Linked DNA regions of Homo sapiens. The protein of the gene in region 2 purifies or fractionates together with the protein of the main gene of each other region. This does not show direct contact. Each region holds a gene or a part of one and is shown on either strand. Other genes may lie near its edges.

Region 1 (3,808 bases), on a different chromosome or scaffold from region 2:
GGCACCAGAATGTGGACACATAGTGGTTGGGTTGGAATTAGAAAGCACTGCGAGGGTGGCTCCCGGAATTCTCTCTTTGCCCTCTAATTTAGGGCATCTTGGTCTTCATTATTTTTTGGAGAATGATTATTTGTATCTTCCACAGGGCCCATCATTGTACTGGCACCCAGTAGGCACCGATTCAGAAAACGAAGTGTTAGAGTGAATGTTCATGTGTTCTCTAAAATCCTCTTCATTGAGGAGCCTGAAGTCATTGGACTATTTTGCTCTTACTTTTCTTGTGGTAGATCTATTTAGTATTTATGATAAAGATTCCACAGAAGCTTTTTTTTTTTTTTTTTTTTGAGACAGGGTCTCCCTCTGTCGCCCAGGCTGGAGTGCAGTGGCACGATCTTGGCTCACTGCAACCTCCACCTCCTGGGTTCAAGTGATTGTCCCACCTCGCCTCCCGAGTAGCTGGGATTACAGGCACATGCCACCACACCCGGCTAATTTTTGTATTTTTAGTAGAGGCAGGGCTTCACCATATTGGTCAGGCTAATCTCGAACTCCTGACCTCAGGTGATCCACCCGCCTTGACCTCCCAAAGTGCTATGATTACAGATGTGAGCCACTGTGCCTGGCCTTGATTTTTTTTTTTTTTTTTTTTTTTTGAGACAAAGGTCTCACTCTGTCACCCGGCTTCAGTGCGATGGTGCAGTCATGGCTCACTGCAGCCTCAAAATCCTGGGCTCGAGTGATCCTCCTGCCTCAGCCTTCCAAGTAGCTGTATGGAAGTGATGGTGTAGTGGTGCCCCTGCCATGGAGGGATGGGGGCGGGATGGGGTTGTTTCTATCATTTATTAGCATATGTGTTAGAATAATGGTTGGTATTAGTGTCAATGAAGACACCACCAGGCGTTATAATTAGATTTGTATAATACTTTACAGTTTACAAGCATTTGTATCTGTAACACTTCATTTACTCCTGAGAACAACCTTGTCAGATAGGTGCCATTGTGTCTCCATTTAAGAAATGAGGAAACTGGCTGGGCCCGGTGGCTCATGCCTGTAATCCCAGCACTTTGGGAGGCCGAGGCAGGCAGATCACTTGAGGTCAGGGGTTCGAGACCAGCCTGACCAACATGGAAAAACCCCATCTCTACTAAAAATACAAAATTAGCTGGGCGTGTTGGCAGGTGTCTGTAATCCCAGCTACTCGGGAGGCTGAGGCAGGAGAATTGCTTGAACCTGGGAGGTGGAGGTTGCAGTGAGCTGAGATCGTGCCATTGCACTCCAGCCTGGGCAACAAGAGCAAAACTCTGTCTCAAAAGGAATGAAAGAAAGAAATGAGGAAACTGAGGCTGAGGGCTGTTAGAGACTTTACTAAGGCTATGTAGCTAATATGTTGCAACCTAATCCTTTATTTAGCATTTTAGAAAAGGAAGGATTTATTTAAGCACGCTAGCCAAAGTCTGATTCATTTCAGTTAGCAAAGGAGATGAGAACTGGAGGGCTTATTCTCCAGAAACAGATATTATGAGAATACAGCCTGGGAGGATTACAAACTTGATTTATTTATTTCTCACAAATACAATTCCAGCCTCTTAACTGGATTGCTGACTCACTGATGTGCTCTCCCCTGTGGGCAATAGGTATAGTTTTCTTGTTGAGTTGCCTGCCAACTGTTTGGAGAAGGGGCAGAAATTAAGGTATAATAGCATGAAACCAGGAACACTAATCTGAGTGATTTGAAGGGAAACTCACCAGGGAGACATTGTAAGCTCCCGCATGGGTTAGTGAGGGCTTTGAGTATCAAATGCCATTTGCATTCTTCCATGTAAGTCAGACGTCTGGCAGCAAATGTACTGTTTAAATGCAAGTCCTGGGGCTGGTCTAAGGTGAAATTGTAACTATTGATAGAACACTGTTAGTGACTTCAAGACTGAGACAATCTGTAGCCCGAGGTGGGCTGTGGATGAGAGAGAAAGACTATAAACCAGATTCTGTCTCTGCAGTGCTTTGGAGAGCTGATTGACAGTAATGTAGAAGTAACCCTTGAGTGGGAATTGTAGCAGGAGGATGTGTGGCAGAGTGGGAGTCAAACTAAACCCTAGGAGCAAGAGCTATTAATGAGAGGAGCCACAGGGAGGTACTGTGCAGGTGAGGTAAGACCAAGGCATGGCCCAGAATCACAGTCAATGCAAATACTGTTAACAACCTGCGAGGGTGTTGGCGGACAAGGACCTTATAAAGGGTTTGGAGCAGGAAAGTTGCAAAAGGTAGGAAACAGTCTTTAAACAATGGAATATTTTGATGGCTTTAAAAAATTAGTAGAATTTATTAGCAACTTCTATTTGGAAGAAAGAGAAGGAACATTGACTAGTACATTAAGCTTTGAGTGGGGATAGTGGAGATAATAGAGCAGGGGTGGGGCAGCCTTCATGCAAAAAGAGATTAATTAGAATCTGCCACTCGAATACTCCTTTAACCAGAGTTCTGTTGTGCAGATGGCTAAGTATCAAGTTCCACAGAGGTCTGGGGACATCGTTATGATCCAGTCTGAACATACAGGAGCTATAGATGTTCTTTCAGCTGATTTGGAATCTGCAGATCTTCTGGGGGACCACAGGAAAGGTGAGACCTTTGGGAGTAAAGGAGGTGGTTTGTTTCCAGTAGATACTCAAAGAAAGGCAGGCAGACAGACAAATGGAAGGAAAGAAAATGACTTGTGAAAGGAAGTCAAGCCAGTAGAAAGAATGTCTGACTGTGCCAGCCTCTCTTAGCAAAATGCCCGGGGTACTCATGTTTCCTCATGGTTTCTCAGTGCTAAGCTGCTTGTCCTTTCAGTCTCCCCACCTCTGATGGCTCCTCCATGCATCTGGACCTTTGCCAAGGTGAAGGAATTCAAAAGCAAGCTGGGCAAAGAGAAGAACAGCCGTCTGGTGGTGAAGCGTGGTGAGGTGGTGACCATCCGGGTACCTACTCATCCAGAGGGGAAGCGTGTCTGCTGGGAGTTTGCGACCGATGACTATGACATTGGCTTTGGAGTTTATTTTGACTGGACCCCTGTAACTAGCACTGACATAACTGTGCAGGTCAGTGATTCCAGTGACGATGAGGATGAAGAAGAGGAAGAGGAGGAAGAGATTGAAGGTAAATTTAATTTTAACCTAATTTGCAGTTTTCTGGCTTAATCTGATTTCTGGTGACCATTTTGTGGGTTGTACCAGTCCTCCTCTTCCTTTGAATGCAGTTGAGAAACTCAGCATTACAAGCTAAGCTGAGTGGTACAGGCCAAAGAGAACATTCTGGTGGGGTTGATACTGCTGCCTTAATTGAAAGAAAGCCTCTTTTTCCTTATCGGTACCTCATTGTTTTCCCAACACCTTCCTGGGGGCAGGGATGGGGCAGGAGCAGAGAGAGGGTGAGTCATGCGGCAGTTTAGAGGGATGGTCATTCAGGTCGCATGTAAGCCAGAGATTATTTTACATCTCTCTCTTAGTTTGTAGATATTTATTCTTGGCCTGGAACCAAAGTGAGTGATTACAGTTTGCTAAAGGTATCCATTCTCTCCTTATCCCAAACTCTCATAGCTGGCTATTGGTTACTTCTTTACTTCATGCCCAGACAAGTTTTAAAAGGGTCTCCGGGCTCCATTCCGGCTGTTATTTGTAGTGTCTACACACTACACAAAGGATGGCCCAGAGGCATTTTTCAGATAACGTAAGAGTAGGTCCTAAGCATTAGTCTTATTCCTCTTATTCCTTGATTTTCTTATATAATCTTAAAGTCAGTCCTTTAACGTGCTTCTTCATAGAACAGCAAG
Region 2 (4,194 bases):
GTGGTGGTGGGCGCCTGTAATCCCAGCTACTCTGGAGGCTGAGGCAGGAGAATTGCTTGAACCCGGGGGACGGAGGTTGCAGTGAGCCGAGATGGCGCCACTGTAGTCCAACCTGGGAGACAAAACTCTGTCTCTAAAAGACAAAAAAAAAAAAAAAAAAAAAGGAAAGGTTAATCATATCTATTTGCAAAGCTGTTTTGACAAAGAATGTAGCATGAGGCATATGGTACCTGCTTAATAAATGTTTTTAGAGACAAGGTCTTGCTTTGCTGTCTAGGCTGGAATGCAGTAGCGTGATCATGGCTCACTGCAGCCTTGAACTGCTGCCTCAAGCGATCCTCCCGCCTCGACCTCCCAAAACGCTGAGATTACAGGCATGAGCCAAGCGCCTGGTCCCACTTAAATATTAGCCATTTATTAGCTGTTGATGTTAAATTACCTAGGACTGAGCTTGGAACCAAGAAGGAGATAGTTAAGAGGTGGTGGAGGAAGCAGGGCCTAGGTGTCACCCAGTTGGAAGAATGGGCAGAGGGACTGCCAGGCTGGCTCTGGGCAGGCTCTGGGGGCTGCCCTGCTGGGGGCGGGCTGTGCTGTTCATATTCACACCCAGGGGTGTCCACTGGGCTGGTGCTCCGCTGTGGAGCGGGGACAAGTCGCTCCACTCAACGCCCCTCAGAGAGCTCGTGGCATTGCCCCATCCCTGGCCCGGTGGCGTCCCGCCTTCGGAGAACGGGAGTGAGACAGACGGACACAGGCGGAGTCCAGGCGGCAGGGTTTATTCCGGTCCTCGGGCAGCCTCTCCGCCGTGGACGGGTCCCTCCCTGGGCTCCGGGCCCTGGCCGCCACCAGCCAGCAGCCTCCCGCTAGGCCGGGCGTCTCCGGGGCAGCCGGGTGGGCCCGAGGACGCGGGGCGGACGCGACGCAAGGCGCGGCGGGCACGGTGGCGGCGTCGGCGGCCGCACGGCCACAGGCGGCGGAAGCGCGCGCGGAAGTGGCGCGAGGCGAGCGCGTAGACGAGCGGGTTGAGGCAGGAGTTGGCGTAGGCCAGGCAGTGTGAGGCCAGGCGGCAGGCGTAGGTGGCCGGGCTGAAGGCGAAGCGGCCGTACCAGAAGCACAGGATGAGCGCGTGGTGCGGACCCCAGCAGAGCGCGTAGAGCGCGGCCACCGCCAGCATGGCGCGCCCCGCGCGGCCCGTCGCCCTCCGCCGCGCCTCGGCCGCCGCCGCGCCCGCGGGACCCACGGCGGCCCACAGGAAGCGCAGCGTGCGCCCGTAGGCCAGGCTCACCACAGCCACGGGCAGCAGGTAGCCGGCAGCGAAGGTGGCCACGTCCAGGGCGCGGCGGCGCGCGTCCTCCCAGGCGGGCACGCAGAGCTCCAGCGCGCCGTAGCGCACGGTGCCGTAGTAGCTGAGGTAGGGCGCCGAGAAGAGCGCCGCCAGCAGCCACACCAGCCCCACTGCGGCGCGGGCGTTACGCGGCGTGCGCAGGGCGCGCGAGCGCAGCGGGTGCCGCACGGCCAGGTACCTGCGGAGGGCGCCTGGTCAGCGGGGCGGGCAGGTGCCCTCCCGCAGGGGCCCGCGCCACGTCCCGCGCCCGGGCCCTGCGGCCCAGTGCGCCTCCTGTGAACCGTGGGGGACGTGGCGGGGATTAAGGGTGTGAACGCGCAAGGTGCTTAGGCCCTTGCACCTAGCAAGGGCCCGATCCCGGTGACTTGTTATTTCTAGGATTATTTTATGGATGCGTCAGATGAGGTCCAGAGAGAAGTGACTTGCCCAGGGTCATCAGCTGGAGTGAGCCTGGATTTGACCCCAAGTTTCAAGCTGTGGAAGCAGATGTGTGCACAGCTTGGCCAGGTGTGGGCAGTTAGAAAATAGCTGGGCTGGGCGCGGTGGCTCACGCCTGTAATCCCAGCACTTGGGAGGCCGAGGCGGGCGGATCACTTGAGGTCAGGGGTTCGAGACCAGCCTGTCCAACATGGCAAAACCCCGTTTCTACTAAAAATACAAAAAATTAGCCAGGTGTGGTGGCCTGTAATCCCAGCTACTCAGGAGGCTGTGGCAGGAGAATCGCTGGAACCCAGGAGGCAGAGGTTGCAGTGAGCCAAGATCCAAAAAAAAAAAACAACAAAACAAAACAAAACAAAAAAACTGATGAACGCATTCGTGAGCTTCTTTTGCGATTCATTTCGCGCTTACAGAGCACTTACTATGTGCCAGACCCTGTGCTGCCACTTGAGACTCAGAGGCGTCCTCTGGAAGTTCACAGTGGAGGAGGGGAAGGGCAGGACAGTCCCCTCAAGCACGCCCTGCAGGTGCCCAGAGGCTGCTTGCGAGGGGTCAGGGAGCTTTTGTTTCCTCCCACCCACCTCCCTTTCTGGTCCCCCACTCTCTCCTTCCTAAGGCCAGTGAGGATCTGTTCAGGACTCCTCCCCCAACCCCCGCCCCCACAGCCCTGCCCAGCCAGGCCCCAGGCACAGCGCACCTGTCCACGGAGACAGCAGCCAGCGTAAAGCTGCTGGCGTACATGGTGAGGTAGATGAGCAGGTGCACGGCCTTGCAGACGAGGGCCCCAAAGAGCCAGGCATCCAGCGTGTAGATGGTGGCCTGGAAGGGCACGCAGCACAGGATGAAGCAGAGGTCAGCCACCGCCAGGTTGAGGATGAACAGGTCCGTGGTGCTGCCAGGCTCCTGCCAGGCACTCGGGCCAGGCTGCAGGAGCACTGCCAGCACCAGCCCATTGCCCACTGTGCCCAGCAGGAAGATTAGGGCAAAGACCACAGGCACTGCCACGGCCCCCACACTCCCTGGGCTGTCCAGTGAAATGTTCTGGGCATCAGCCATCTCCCCATCAGACGGGCACCTGGGAAGAGAAGCTGGAATCCTCAGGCAAGAGCCCCCAGTTCTGGTTGCTTGACCCCGGGATCTAACTCCCCCGACCTGGGTCTGGCCAGGTGTTCTGGGCTGGAAGCTCGTGGGAGATGGAGGAGGGGAGAGCAGAGCCAAAGTCATCGCTGAGTGTCACTGTGTGAGCAAGCTCGTGGTGTTCAAGGGGTGAGAGTTCCTCAGTTTCCTAAGGAACACCCCTGGAGTCCTGCCTGGAGGACTACCTAGGTATTTGAGGGACACTTTCAACCCACGAGGCTGGGGAAGGCACAAGCGAAGTAGGATGAAGATATGGCGATGGGGGGAGGGGCCAAACCCAGAAACTGGTATGTTTTCCTTCTCAATGGGGATCTGAAGCTCAGGGGAGACCCTGGGACATGGGTTTAGGGCTTTCTCTGGCTACAAGCTGTAGCCTTAGCAAAACACGGGTAACATCCCTGAGTCATTGGAGGGTCCAGTATAGTGAGATCATCACAATGGCAAAACTGGGAAGACCGTGTAGGTCACTGCTTCCTCTCTGCACATAGGGAAATTGAGGCCCAGAGAGGGGACATGGGAGGATAATATCACACTCGAAATGGCAGCTCTGGGGCTGTTGCCACCCTGGTATCCTGCCTCTTAAGCTAGAGTGCTCATCTGAGAGCTTGTAACAGGTGGTGCCTCTGACAACTTGTGTGTGTGCACACCGCACCCATGCTCACCCCCATCCCACTCTACAGCCCATGTCTCCTACTGCCTGTGGATCTCCTTGCAGGCTTGAGACCACTGGGGTGGTGGGACAAAGTAGGGGAAAGGGGGGTCAGGCAGGGAGTAGGGAAGAAAGGCAATGTCTGCCCCCATCCCAGCACCCAGCATGCAGTAGGTCCCCAAAGCCCAGGATGGGCAACACCCACCTCCGCCTTGGGCAGTGGGCTTGATCCTGGGTGGAATGGCCGGGCTGGGTGGGCCTCCTGATTCAGCGGCTGCCCCTTGGTGCCTCCCTGCAGGTACTGGTCTGCCTTCTACTTCTCCCCCTTTGCCTTTAAGGCCCCTCCTCTCCTCTGCCCCCTCTGCTGAGCCGGAGTTGGGCACTCCCTCTGGAGTAGCCACTGGCCACTTCCTCCTCAGTCCCTGATTTCCCCCAGGTGGCAGGCTCTTCTGCCTGGCTCTTCTCTGCCTCTCTGCGTTGCTGCTGCCTTTTCCTCTCTCTGCAGCCAGTAACCCATTGATCTCGCTCTCTGTGATTTGCTTTGTAGTTAACCCCTCTGTGCCCAGGGCCCAGCCAGTCTCTGGCACTCCCACCTCCTGTGGCCCAGCCTGATGTGACTCCATCC

What was found.
Region 1: the proteins of GALR3 (region 2) and TMED8 purify together in Homo sapiens (affinity purification with mass spectrometry; one large-scale study listed by BioGRID and IntAct). This does not show direct contact.

What each region holds. Positions count from the first base shown.
Region 1 is NC_000014.9:77,342,505-77,346,312, reverse strand, and holds part of TMED8 (protein TMED8), read left to right. Parts: intron 1-2,474; coding exon of another isoform or gene 2,475-2,489; coding exon 2,490-2,616; intron 2,617-2,829; coding exon 2,830-3,135; intron 3,136-3,808.
Region 2 is NC_000022.11:37,822,052-37,826,245, reverse strand, and holds GALR3 (galanin receptor type 3), read right to left. Parts: upstream 2,865-4,194; 5' UTR 2,840-2,864; coding exon 2,481-2,839; intron 1,524-2,480; coding exon 776-1,523; 3' UTR 761-775; downstream 1-760. UniProt on the Homo sapiens protein: Receptor for the hormone galanin. Receptor for the hormone spexin-1.